Regions from separate parts of the Homo sapiens genome. Here region 2 is linked to region 1. Evidence: fine-mapped expression QTL. Tissue or cell type: whole blood. Region 1 holds a variant in brackets; the other region holds the start of a gene. All regions are shown on one strand. Distances are between the middles of the regions.

Region 1 (6,842 bases):
AGGGCCACCAGGGTATCTCAGTTCTGGCGAAGTTCCTCATCTTATGACCACAAGGAAAACTTGGAGAGAAGATGTTCCCAGTGACCTCAGAAAAGTTTAGCCCTACCCTTTCTGCACTGAGCACCTGCATGGTAGCCACCATGACTAAGTGACCTTCTTAAGGTCTGTAGCACTGCCTGCATTGAGCCAGGACTGATCCAGCATTCAGCCAGCATTGACACAGTATTCAGCCAACACTCAGCGAATTCTCATCCAGGACTCAGCCAGCACTTAGCCAACACTCAGCTAGCACTCAGCCAGCACTGACCCAACACTCACCTAGCACTCAGCCAGGACTCAGCCAGCCCTGACCCAGCACTCAGCCAGCGGCACTCAGTCAGCACTTAGCCAGTACTCAGCACTCACTCAGCACTCAACAAGCACTCACTCAGTATTGACCCAGCTCTCAGTTAACATGCACCCAGGCCTCACTAGTGTGCATGTGAACACTGTTTGGATGGACAGTGAAAAAATCATTCTAGCCTGCTTGAAGGAACAAAGGTAATGGTCAAATGTTTCAATTTTTAAATAATTTTGACTGACATATACATGCCTACAGATTTCAACCTCATGTCTATATATTAAAACAGCTTTTCTCCAACCAATATATAATCTATTGACTGGTTGGCATCACAATATATGTTTCCTCTTAAGTATCCCATCTCACATTTTTATATTGACACTTATATAGTCTGAGTTGGGTGTTTCTTATGCTAGATCAGGAACCCTTAACACCTTACCATCCATCACAAGGAAGAGAGACAGAAAAGAGAGAGAGAAAAGAAACAATATAATAATGAGAACAGCACTCTCACTAACTGGTTCATGCCTTGCTTGCCTTCTTGTGGAGAATAATTTTGTAGTATATATCAAAATTGAAAATATCTACACTCTGACCCAGATAGCAATCTTTACTACAAAAACATTCATACATCATACATAGCCCCTCAACAATAACAAAAAAACCCCTCTATGATTAAGGGTGTTCTCATCAGTATTTCTTAGAATACCAAAGAAGTGAATAAACAAACTAAAGTATACCCATATCATGAAATACTATGCAGCAACTCACAAGGACGATAAGACAGAGATACCAGTGTCAGAGAAGATACGGAACACTGGAACTTTCCAGTACCAACTGTTACAACCATTTTGAAAATCTGTTTGTCAGTATCTACGAAAGCTACACTTACACATACTCTGTGTGACCTGGCAATTCTATTCCTAGATCTAGACCCATTAGATGTGCATATGTATTTCATCAAAAGACCTGTACGCTGATATCCTTTGATACGCTATTCACAACAGCAAAGCAACTGGAAAGGATTCAAATGTCTACCACCAGTAGAGTGAATAAATACACAGTGTCCTGTCCACATGCTAGAGTGCCATGCCACAGACAAAATCAACTGTTATTCAAAACAACATGGGAGGATCACAGCAACAAAATATTTTATGAATTCATTTATGTAAATTTCAAAATCAGGCAAAGCTCACCTGTGGTGTTAAAAGTCAGGACAGCAGTTACCCTTTGGAGGTGGTGGCTGGGGAAGGGCTGTGGAAATCCTGGAACACGAAATGTTCTGCCTCTGGACCTGGGCCCTGGAGGCACAGGTGTGTTCACCTGGGGAAAATTCCACCTACACTTATATTCGTATGCTGGCCTTTTTGTATGTTATTCTGCATAAAAAGGTTCTTTAATAATAATTTCAACTTTGGGGTTCAGGGGGTACAGGTACAGGTTTATTACATGGCCATATTGTGTGATGCTGAGGTTTGGGCTATGATGGATCCCATCACCCCAGTAGTGAGCATGATATCTAACAGGTGGTTTTTCAGCCCTTGCCCCTCGCTTTCCCCCACTCCCATCTAGTAGGCCCCAGTGTCCACTGTTCCCATCTTTATGGCCATGTGTACCCAACTGCTTACAAAGTTTAAAAATAATGATAATTCTCTAATTTCTCATATGAGGAGATCTCTAAGACATAGCAGAAGGTAGGAAAAGAAAATAAGTCTCACAAACACAAACATGGGTCTCTGTTTTCTGAGCAAGTTTGTGTGTGTGTGATTGTATGTGGGCACCCAGTGAAATAATCCTGGCCTGGATATTAGCAGCTGTCCTGCAGATGGAGGAGGCAGATACTGTTGTGGGGAATGGCATGGAGAGAGGAAGGGGAGGAAACGGGTGCCCTTCTGCACCGTCTGGAATGTTCACAAGCACACCTTCATGAAGTGCTGGAAGTGCTGTGAATTTTTTTTTTTTTTTTTTTTTTTTGAGACGAAGTTTTGCTCTTGTTGCCCAGGCTGGAGTCCAGTGGTGTGATCTCGGCTCACTGCAACCTCTGCCTCCCGGGTTCAAGCGATTCTCCTGCCTCAGCCTCCCGAGTAGCTGGGATTAAAGGTGCCCGCCACCATGCCTGGCTAATTTTTTGTATTTTTAGTAGAGACAGGGTTTCACCATGTTAGCCAGGCTGGTCTTAAACTCCTGACCTCAGGTGATCTGCCCGCCTCAGCCTCCCAAAGTGCTGGGATTACAGGCGTGGGCCACCTTGCCCAGTTAGTACTGTGTCATTTTGAAAGTTATAAAGGAATTTTTATTTGTAGCATGCACCTCCTGTGTGTCAGGCTCTATACTGGGCACCGTCAGCCTAGAAGACACAGTGCCTGGTCCCAGGGAGTGGGCATTTGGGGCTGCATGCCTGGGAGTCAGTGGAGAGTGGGTTCTGGCACTGGGGGTCAGTCACAAAGGAACAGGGGCCTCAGGTGCCAGCTCCACAGAATGCCAAAGGGCCTGGGACAGCTCTCCAGCCTCTCACCTTTGCTCTCTTCCGTGGCAGCATTCTCAGCATTCTAGGTGAAAGTGTCACCCACAGTGACAACAAACTATGGGAAAACAGAGACATAGGCAAACTATGTGCTGCAGTCCTAATTTTGACCTCAGTGGGAGCGGGAGGTGGGAGGCTGGAAGGGTGTTGGG[A/C]AATACCCAAAGCATCCAGGGGGCATAGCACCCCTAACCACAGGCAGGGTCTTGTCCCCCATTGTGGGAATCAGCGGGTTTCAGGTCTGTCCCTTCCTTTCAGGTTCAGGCTTGTTGTTCGAGGCCAACTGCCTCCTCCACTGGGCACAGTTCTCAGCTCCCCGCATCCCCTCAGAGGATCCCTCCTGCGGATCACGTCGCCAGCATTCCCAGGTCCCTGTGGTGGACTACTCGGGGTAGGCGTCTGTGTGGCAGGCAGGACAATGGAGACAGATGTGCAGTGAGACCTCTCTGGGCCCCACCCTTCTGCTGTGAAGACTGAATAAGATAACTACCAAGAGTAAGGGTAGCTTATTCCCTTCCTGTCTCTTTTTTTTGCCCATTCCTAAGAACTGCAGAAAGTTCTACAACCTCGATTTTCTAATTTTTTATTTTTTTTAAGAGACAAGGTCTTGTTCCATTGCCCACGCAGGAGTACTGTGGTGTGATCATGGCTCACCTGCAGCCTTGAACTGATCCTCGTGCCTCAGCCTCCCAAGTAGCTGGGACTACAGGTGCACACCACCACGCCTAGCTGATTTTTAATATTTTTTTTGTAGAGTCAGGGTCTAGCTATGTTGCCCAGGCTGGTCTTGAACTCCTGGCCTTCAACTCCTCAGCCCCTCAAAGCAGTGGGATTACAGGCATGAGGTGATGCACTTGGCCTGAACTTTCTGCTTCTAATGCAAGTGCTCTAGAAACACACAGGCTTGGAGAGGACACTCAAAATAAACCAGGATAGGTACAACCCCCACCCATTTCAGCTGCCACTTGCTTCCCTGGCCATCCCTGCCCTAATGCGTACTCACAGGTCCAGTGGTTATGCTCCTAAAACCCAGCTGTGAAATGCTCACCCTCTGCAGAGAGACCTGCTACTGGATCAGCAGACATTTCCTGAGAAAGGGTCAGTGGGCCACCACCTCGGGCGCAGGGATAGAGCTGTATGGAGCTCCTGCGGCCTCCTAGGTCACCTGTCACTCCTCAGGAGGTGCTCACGGACCTGTGAGATTTGTGTCTCTTGGCTTCCCTTGCACCCAGGGAAGGCCACTCTAGGGCTGCTCATGTGACCAGGAGCATTTCACCTCCCACAACCCAGCTGATGTGTCACATGACCAAGAGCTTTGCTGTCCCCGCCATCCAAAGCCCATTCTTCTCACCTCTGCATCCCCATAGCCCTGCAGAAACCCTACAGCTAGGCAGTCCCTTTTTCCCAGTGGGCTGGGTAGGCAAGGGGGTCCCAGCCCTCCCCATACAGAGCAGAGGGAGGGCTCTGCACAAGCCAGATACTCAGTCAATTTCTTTGAATTAAATCAAACTTTTAAATTAAAAGTTGACCCCATAGAAGAGCCGACTTCATGCTTGTTCTTTTTGTTTGTTTGTTTTGTTCCATTTCCTTGAGACACTTCGGCACCAAGCAGCATTTCCGTAAAGAATTAAAAGCCCAGAACCAATTGTGGATGCACAGAAGCCTCCCATCTACCTGCAGCAGTACTGTCTGGGAACGGTCCTGGCCCATTTTGTGGGGCCTTGCACTCCTGGGGGTACCTTCTGCACATGATCGCTGCCCAGCTATAAACCAGCCCGAGAAGGAGCGAGAGCCGTCCATGGGCTCCATGTCATGGATGAAGAGACTGACGCTTAGAGAGACAGAGAATAGGGGATGAGGACACAGAACGAGGACTGGAATTGGGAAAAAAAAGCAGCCAGGGCTTTTACTGCTGGATCTCACTGCCTGTCTCCAGAATACACGTTTAAAATGTACTACTTAAGAGTGAAGAAACCGAGAGAAGGTCTCCTGATTCTTTAAAAGCGTGACACACAGCTGGGCACGGTGGCTCATGCCTATAATCCCAGCACTCTGGGAGGCCGAGGTGGGTGGACCACCTGAGGTTAGGAGTTCGAGTCCAGCCTGGCCAACATGGAGAAACCCTGTCTCTACTAAAGGTACGAAAATTAGCCGGGCGTGGTAGCGGGCGCCTGTAGTCCCAGCTACTGGGGAGGCTAAGGCAGGAGAATTGCTTGAGCCCCAAGGGCGGAGGTTGCAGTAAGCCGGGATTTCACCACTGCACTCCAGCCTGGGTGACAGGGCGAGACTCCATCTCAAAAAAAAGTGTGACACACAACCGCATGGCGACTCTCTCTGACCGGAAAGGACAGTAGGCTGGAGTCCGGCCACGCCACCTTGGCAAGGTGTGCTTGGTGAGTCTGTTCATCTCTCAGCCTCAGTCTCCCCACTTGAAAAATGGGACAATATCATCACCTCCCTTGGAGGGCACGGGGAGACACAAACTATGCAAGGTAGATAAAGCAAGAAATGTCACACGTGTAGCAAGGGTGCCCAGAACCCTCTGCTGGTCGCAATTGTGGGATGCGGGTGTTTTTCTTCTTGATCAAGAGGGAAAGTCATTTTTATTTAATCTGAAAATACAAATAGAAGGGCCGCTTTCTGGATGTAGCAAAGCCTGAAAGTCCATGAACACCCTGTGACAAGGTTATGGGGTGCAGGGGAGAAGTCGGGCCCTGGGTCAGCATCCCTTGACCATCATGGATTAATCTGCCTGTGCTCCAAAGGTCCCCGTGTCCACACATAGCAAGGGGGCTCAAACGCTGCCTTACAGCTGTAAGACTCCTACTGTGCAAAGTTCTCAGGACCAAAAAGAAAAATTACTTCGGGGGTCTCTCACTGACTGGGTCCGGGACCCAAGTCTCTGAGGCTCAGGGCAGCCCTCTCTGTTGGCAGCCTCTTGGAGGGGACAGTAGGAACACTGTATCATCGCCACTGTGAACACAGAATGTCACATGAGCAAAGACACTTGTCAAATGCCTTTCCTTTACACGCACCCTCACCATGACCTGTGTTAATGAAGTTAATTGAATTTAAGATCAATAATGGTTAATTATTGCAATTTGACATTCAGAGATAAATGGCTTTAAGACAGAGAAGTATGTGTGTATGTGTGAGCACGCGAGAGAGTGTGTGTGTGTGTGTGAATTCTCTCCAAAGAAGGTGAATGCATTACAAGCCTAAGAGGGATCCCACAAGCCTTCCATTGATTCTGGTACATTGTGATCGACTTCATCCTCTGATAAATGTGGGCTTTTCAGAGCTACAGGTAAATGTTCTACGAGACTACTCTAACCCTTGTCACTGGCCAAATCTATACGTGCTGTACACCAGAAATCTATTGAGATAGATTAAAGAACTGCTGTAGAAACAAGAGCAGCTTCAATAAAGGTGAAGGTTTATTATATTGACTATTAATGTAACTTAACTGTATGCAGTTATGAATGCTTATAGATCAGGGCAGTTTAATTTGGGGCAGTTGGATATGATTATAATTGAACACAAATTTTTTTTATATCACCATAGATGAACTCAATTCAATGTGGACAAAAAGAAAAAACCAACCTAGCTTGGAAAGTAGCTAGGTTATAACCAAAGGGTGAATTCCTAGGGAGGGATGGCCCCAGGAGAGCTGGCCCAGGTCCAGGCCTCTCTAACGATGCACTCGCCGCACCACCTCCTGCTCCAGGTCCCACAGCGTGCATGGAGCTGACGCCCCAGCAGTCTACAGTGGCCCCACAAGCCTGGGGTCAGGGCTGCTAAGTGGCTCCTCTGATTTGATCCAAATTGGTAAGAAGTTTAATTTTCAGGAGAGATTCTCGGTAGGAAGTCACAGCCCCAAATGCATTAATAATGACACTCCTCCATCCACCCAGAACCAGCTAGATGACCACTTACAAGATTGATAATGACAAAGTAAATGTTGTCAGGAAGAAAGTCCTA
Region 2 (6,842 bases), 51 kb after region 1:
GCCCATGTCTACTGGCAACATGGAACCCCCTCTGGCTGTTCCAGGGGGATCCACAGTGTTCTGTGGCACCAGCAGACCCTAGGGGGTCCAAGTCACTTTCACAAAAGTCAAGATGCTTGAAGATTTACCCTTGCCTTGTTTTTACCACCTAAGAACTCCACGGAACATTACCCCCTTTCAAAGAATATAGCTTGCTGGCAAATTGTGGTTCGATGGTTTCTTTTTGTTTTTTGTTTGGTTTTTTTTTCTTTTGGAAGCATAAGAAATGGTCTTTTATGATTTCACATTTGCCTCCAGAAAATTAATATAAGTAAAATATCTGCTATTAAGTATTACACTAAAATTTTTCTGGCATTTTCAGAAATGTTTTTTAAAAACCACTCTGAACAGGAGAAAATCATGCTTTAAGCAGGGGATAATGGTCATTTTGCCTGAAGGACACTGTCCTTCCCTAACCCCACTCCTCTGAGCTTCTAAAAGCAGCAACATCTGTCCAGCACAAATGCACACCCCCTGGAAATTACAGGTCTCAAGGAAGCAAACTCCCGCCCAGGTTTCTCTTTGGCAGGTAAAGAAACCTCTCTTTCTCTTTGAGAAAAGACCCTAAGCCATACATAGTTTCTATCAAAACATCAAAAAATCCTAAAGTACAGAAATATGTATTTTCAGGGATTCTTGGAGCCTGCTTCGGCCTTCGGGAAAGCAATGATACATTGGCCTAGATATGAAGACCGTGTGTACCTGTGTGCCACGTCTGCTCGCCCTACCCAGCTCTTGGCCTTTTGTGGTTGTTATTCTACCCTAGACCATTAAAAGGGCCCTAATTCCTATGACATGATTATCCAGGTACCAAAGCCCATTTGTCACCTGCAGCAGAAAATTGAGTTAATGCACAACTAAAGGCAGCCAGGACTGTGTAATATCAACTTGATTACATCAAACTAGCTGCAAACCTAATTCTGCTGGATGACACTGCGTCGAGCTTGTCATCTCCAATCATTAAAGCTGTCAGGAATCCATCAGGTTTACAGCTAATTAGGTGAACACTAATGAAGCTGGCAAAACAACTTTTCTTTTTTTATGGCTGAGCGGACCTTTCAGTTTGGAGGGGAAAAAAATTCTCGAGTATTCTCAAGGTTGCTGGGGACTGGATTTCCAGTTACCAATCAGCAGACATCTTTCTTTTCCCCACTCTCTCTCTCTATCAGTACAAAGCAATCAATTTGTCATCACTCCCAGTATGCCACAAAAGCTGGCATGAACCTTATAACTTGCAGCTGGGAAAACTAAAAAAGAGGAGAAAAAAATGGGAAGTTTCTGGTCCATCCAAACAAACAAACCACCCCCAAAAAAAAAACCTCTGTGCATACTTATCACCAGCCTAAATGTGGAGTTTTTTTTTTTTCTCTCCACTCTTCTTAAATAAGTAGCTCTTCAGTCCGCCTCCACCCCCTCCTCCACATGTCCATTAGGCAGAGGCATTCTGATAAAGTAAATCCAAAACCCGAGTATGGGAAAGAAATAAAGCACTCATGCTGCCAGCTTCTGATTGACCATTAAGCTATTGATGAATGTGCCTGTCAGGAGAGAGACAATTAAATCAAATATGAAACAAAGTCGTTTTGACGGGTCATTTTGATAGAGCAAAACCATTCTTCCATCTCCTATTAGTCCTGCAGTCAAGTTTTTTATATAATGAATTTTTCTTAACTGACCTGAGATTTCCTGGCTGGCTTTCTTTAAAAAAAAAAAAAAAGTGTGAAAAGGTTAGTGAACAGGTTGCTCTAAAAATAAATAAATAAATAAATAAATAAAGCCAACAGCAGGTTCCCTCCTCCTCTGATATTTTTCTGGAGGAAGCTATCAAATACGAGTCTCAGATTGGCAGGGTGCAACCGAAGAGATGAACTAGAGAGAGAGTTCTGAACCAAATGTAAAGATGTAATCACATATGGTTCATTGGATGGAGGCACACACATACCTTAAAATGTGTATCCAAAAAGGAAAGAAAAAAAAAATTTCAAAGACTGGAAGAAGCCCAAGACATTCCTACTACTCAACTTTGTGAAGGATTCCTCCAAAGTTTCAGAGTTTATTTTGGGTAGATAAGCTCATTGCTTGAGCCTGGAATTTAAAGTAGAAGGTGGGACGGGCAAGAAGCAAGCTCCAGGAGGTTAACTAGGGAGGCGGCAAGCTCCCTACAATCACTCCTGGAATTTTCAAACTTTCTAAATTTGGGCAACACCGAGGACAGAGAGCAAAACCTGCATCCTAAGCCCCAAACCAACCCTGTTTTCTTCTGAGATTTTCTGAAGACACTGGCAGGCAAGTACATTTCTGGGAGAAGAGAGAATTATCATTCCTTCTCTGTGACCCCGTGTAAGGGGTCTGGAGTGCAGAGTGCAGCCAACGTGTGAGGTCCCCTGGCAGTGCCGGCTGGCATGATGGAAATTATGGGCACTCAGGGCACCATGGCTACAACGCCTTCCTCCAAGATGGGCACCAGCCAATGCCCTGACCCTACTCTCTGCCCTTCCCTCTTAACATCAAAAGAGAAGTAAAAGAAAGGAAGAGAAAAGAAAAGAAAGGAAGCCCCACTTAACCCTCCCCTTCAGGGAGCATCTGAACCTCTGCACATCTGAGTGTTACTCATATCAAAATACATCACGTCCATATGTGGTCCTCTCGGCAATCCGCCCCAAATCCCAAAGTTGCACTGACAGGGCCCTCCTGACGTCACAGAGCTTGGCCTCACTATTGCAAGTGATTTATTGATGTTTATTGGGAATGAATAGATCAAAGGCAGCAGCATGACGGGCGATCAATCAGTCATCAAATCAAGGATGGCAACGGGCCAGAAACCCTTCTTCCAGGCAACATGCCCCCAACCGACATTATTGCAAAATAATGTTATGTGTGTGGTTTTTGTTTTGTTTTCAATGATGCGTTTTCCAGAAAAGAAAAGAAAAAAATCGGCTCAGTCTTAACAGGAGTTGACACTCCCGGTTAAAGAAGAAGAAAAAAAAAAAAAAAGGAGGAACAAAAAAGTACTCAGACACGTCCCAGAACTAAGTGCTATGCGGAGATGAGGGTGGGAGCAGCAGTACAAGGAGGGGGTGGGGGCGAGGAAACACAAACAGGGGAGAAGGAAACGCCAGCATCTAACATGGACTTGACAGTCATCTGACAATACCCAGACCCTGTGCGCTCCGGGTTCCACCGCTGTGCCCAGTTTGGGCCCAAGAAATGAGGAATCAATCGTGTTAGTACTAAGGTGGCCGAGGGGACCGGCTCGCTCACTCGTTCGCGCTCCCTGGCTCGGCGGACACCAGGCAGTCCCCCGGCGGTCGGCCGCTCGGAGGACGCGGAAGATGTCCCGGGGAACTCAGGTGACCCCGCCCGCCACCCACAGAAAGAGCCAGGCCGGGGTTGCTTCCCATTCCCTCTGCAGCCGGAGAGCTGAGGAGGTAGGGACCTGGCGCGGCTCAGCGCGCTCCGCGAGCGGCTCCCCAAATGGGTGCGAGAGGGAAGAGGGCAGAGCGCGGCGGGGCGTCCGGGGGGCGCCCGGTACCCGAGGCGGGCGCACGCACCCAAACAGGAGAGCGGCGCCCGGAGTTACTCAGTGCGGGCAGAAGAGCGGGGCGAGGAGCGGGGTCGCGCCCGCTGGAGGCGCGGGGCGAGCGGAGGAAGAGGAGGAGGAGAGCAGAAGGAAGGGGAAGCGGCTCGTACCTGCTGCGCGCCGGGGCGCCTGCTGCTTCCTCCTCGGCATGATGCTTCTCCGGCGACTGCCACTGCCGCCGCCGCCGCCGCTGCCGGGCTGAGGACAGGGAGGGAGGGGGCGGCGGGCCCGCGGGGGGGCGAGGCGGGCCTGCTCTCAGCCTCCCCCCCGGAGAGCGGCCGCCCGCAGGATGCTGCTGCGCCCAGGCTCTCCGCGTCCCCCCCGCGCCGCGCTCCGCCGCGAACCCCGAACGTGCGGAGGGAAGAAGGAGGGCGGGCGAGGGAGGCTCGGGGAGGGAGGAGCACGGGGGGGAGGAGGAGGCAGAGGAGGAGGAGGTGGAGGAGGAGGAGGAGGACCGCGCTGCCGGCGGAATGGGAAGTTTGACAAATCGCTCCAGAGGCCAGAGGAGGAGGGGGCGGGGAGGAGCGGCGGCCCTGCCCCCCCCCGCCCCGTCCCCAGACGAGGTGCGCGGGGTTCGGGGCTGGGGGGCGGGGAGAGGGCGGGCAGAGCGGTGGGAGGAGGAGCGCGGGAGCGGCCCGGACCGGTACTGCCCCGGCCCCCGCCCCTAGGCCGGGGGTCACGGCATCCGGGGGGACGCGCAGCCGCCGCCGCGGCCCGGGGCTCGGCGGTCCAGTCTTCTGCCCGTGGCGCGGCTGGAGCGGCGGCGTCGGCAACAGGCAAGCTTAAAGGAAAAGGAGATGATCGTGTCAATCGCCCGCCCGCGGGGGCGCCGCGCCCCCGCCCCCGGCCCCAGGCCCGCGTGGGACCCCCGCCCCGCCAGCGAAAGGGGTGCCGCCCCTCCGCCTCCGCCCCGTGCGCACACGCGGGGGCGCGGCGCCAGCCCCGCCGAGCCCGTCCCGGGGCGCTCGTTACCCCCCACCCCTATTCCCACCCAGCGTTCGTCCCCAGCCACCCCCCAGCTGCCCCACCCGGCTCGCACTCCTCTCCACCCGCCGACTCCGGAGCCCCCAGCGTGGTCCCCGGGCCGGGGCTGGCGTCCCCCGGGGAAGCCAGAGCCCACGGGCAGGCCCCCTCCAGGGAGGAGGCGGGCGCGGGCCGGGGCGGGTGGGGGCAGCCCTCAGACCCCGCGCCACCCAGCTCCTCCCCCAGGACCCGCCGTAGCCACTTCCCCCAATTTTTTTTCCCCGGACAAACTTTCCTGGGCCCGTCCCGGGGGTCGGTGTGGGAGGGGGTTCCTTCAAGTTTCCTCTCCTGACTTTGGGATGATCAGGGTCCCTCCACCCCGCCCCTCGCCCCCGGGAGCCGGGCCGCGCCCCCCATCCACGGCGCGGGCCGATCCTAGGGCGGGACGGGGGCGGGAGAAGGAAACCGGGCTCCCCTGCCCATCCCCCGCCAGGGGCTCCCCCCGAGAGCCTAGGGGGCCGCCGCGCCGTGTCCCGCGCCCGGCCTGCCGGGGCTGCTGGACTAGAGGGATTGATTATTGATTGGTGATCGGGGTCGCTGAGGCTCCGGGCCGGCCCGGCCGACTGGCCGCGGCAAGAAGGAGCTGGCTGGGCGGCGTGGGCGGCGGGGCGACGCGGGCTCACTTACGGGCGGCGGTGAGGGCGCGGGTGGGCCGGAGCTCATGCGGGCGACCCCCGGGCGGCGGCGGCTGAGCGGGAGCCGGAGCCCGAGCGGCGCGGGCGGCGGCGCATCGATGCGCTGCGGGCTCGATTGCGTCTCCCTGGGCCAGCTCTCAGGCCGGGAATGGGGCGGCCGCGCCGGGGCCGGCTCCGGGCGCTGCCGGGCGGCGGCTGCTGGAGCGCGGGGGCGGCCTCCGGGCCCACTATCCCCGAGGCGGCCCTGCGCCCGGGCGCGCCGGCTGGGGCTCTGGCGCTCTCGCAGGCCCCGAGGCCGACAGTCCCGGCGAGGGCGGGCGCCCCGCGCTCCAGCACCGGCTGCCTGAGCGCTCCTGGAGCAGCAAACCCCAGACTTCTTCCTCCTTCTCTCCTTCCTTCCTTCCCCCTCCCCTTATCTTTTTCTTTTTTTAGTCTCTTTCTCCCTCTTTTTCTGCCCTGTGTCCTTTTTATTTTTTCTCTACGACTGTTTTTGCAAGTTTGTTTCAAAAGTTCACAGCATGCTTTCTTTTCTTTTAGACCGGGAGACAGTGATCTCACCCACACGGTAAGATCAAAAGTCTCCGCTCGCCCAGCCTGCGGGCTTGGGCTGGGTCCAGACGTCTCCCAGGATGCAGATGCGCCGCCGCTGGCCTCCCCGGCTATAAAGCCGCCTCCAGCGCCTTTCCGCGCGCAGGAGCGCTCGGAGTTGTGGGGTACGGACCCCAGGCGGGGCAGGGAGTCCGAGGCGGGCTGCGGCGGGGCTCTCGGGCTGGCGGACTCGGGGGCTGAGGCGCCGTGCGCGTTGGGTGCCCGCGGCCGCAGAGGCCAGAACCGCTACTCCTCCAGGCCGGGGAGACGCGGCCGTGGAGCGTGAAACGCTTCTTGCAAGCGAGGAAACGGTGAGTTGGCCGACACCGCCGGCGGCCTCACCATTCTGGTGGCCGCGCTGAGCTCCTGTCGCCTGGAGGCGGGTTGCGCCGCACGGGGTCAGCTCCCGCCGGCTCCCAGCTCACCTTCGAAGCTCCCACTTAGGCGCGCCCGGTGCGGCGTGTGCACAGCGCGGGGCGCCGCACACGGAAGCGTGTAGTTCTCCCTGGTCGCGCTTTTCTCCTCCTTTCCATCCCCTCGCTGTTCTTGCAAACCTCTGTTCCTTCGGCCCCCTCCCACTGCGGGCCGCGGCCTGAACTCGGGTCTCCGCGTAGCCGGCCGCCGCCGCTGGGTCGCTGCCTGGCCCTCCCCCGCTCAGGCGCCGAGCGCTGTGCGATCCGCCCTAACATCTGTCCGTCCAACCATTGGCGCATCCATCAGTGTCAATGGGCTGCACATTGCAGCGACAGCCCGCCACGCACAACACGGGCTATGCGGAGTGCACGCAGCAACCATACTGCCATGTCGGGACACGCAAAAAGGCCCCCGGCCTGGCTTGGCACAGCCTGAAGGCCTAATCTGTGTTCTTTCAGCCACATGTACCCACCCCCACTTAATATCTGGACCCCCAAACATGAATAGTTTTGCAGACCATTGTAGGGATGGAATTGAAGGAAGAGGGGCAGTGTCGCCCGAGT

The links. PIP is the estimated chance that this variant, and not a neighbour inherited with it, causes the effect.
Region 2: it holds the start of TSHZ3, and the variant in region 1 is fine-mapped to the expression of TSHZ3 in whole blood (TOPMed, PIP 0.93).

Annotation. Positions count from the first base shown.
Region 1 is chr19:31,294,038-31,300,879 of GRCh38, forward strand. All of the region lies in intron 1 of TSHZ3 (teashirt zinc finger homeobox 3), which reads right to left. Among named protein-coding and RNA genes, the nearest start is that of TSHZ3-AS1, 24 kb to the right of the region's middle. The variant A/C (reference allele first, on the strand shown) is at 3,017.
Region 2 is chr19:31,345,451-31,352,292 of GRCh38, forward strand. TSHZ3 (teashirt zinc finger homeobox 3) reads right to left here and starts at 3,986. Exons shown (of 2, transcript NM_020856.4): 1 at 3,730-3,986. The coding sequence starts at 3,769. It overlaps TSHZ3-AS1 (TSHZ3 antisense RNA 1), which reads left to right. Exons shown (of 3, transcript XR_002958388.2): 1 at 1-3,467.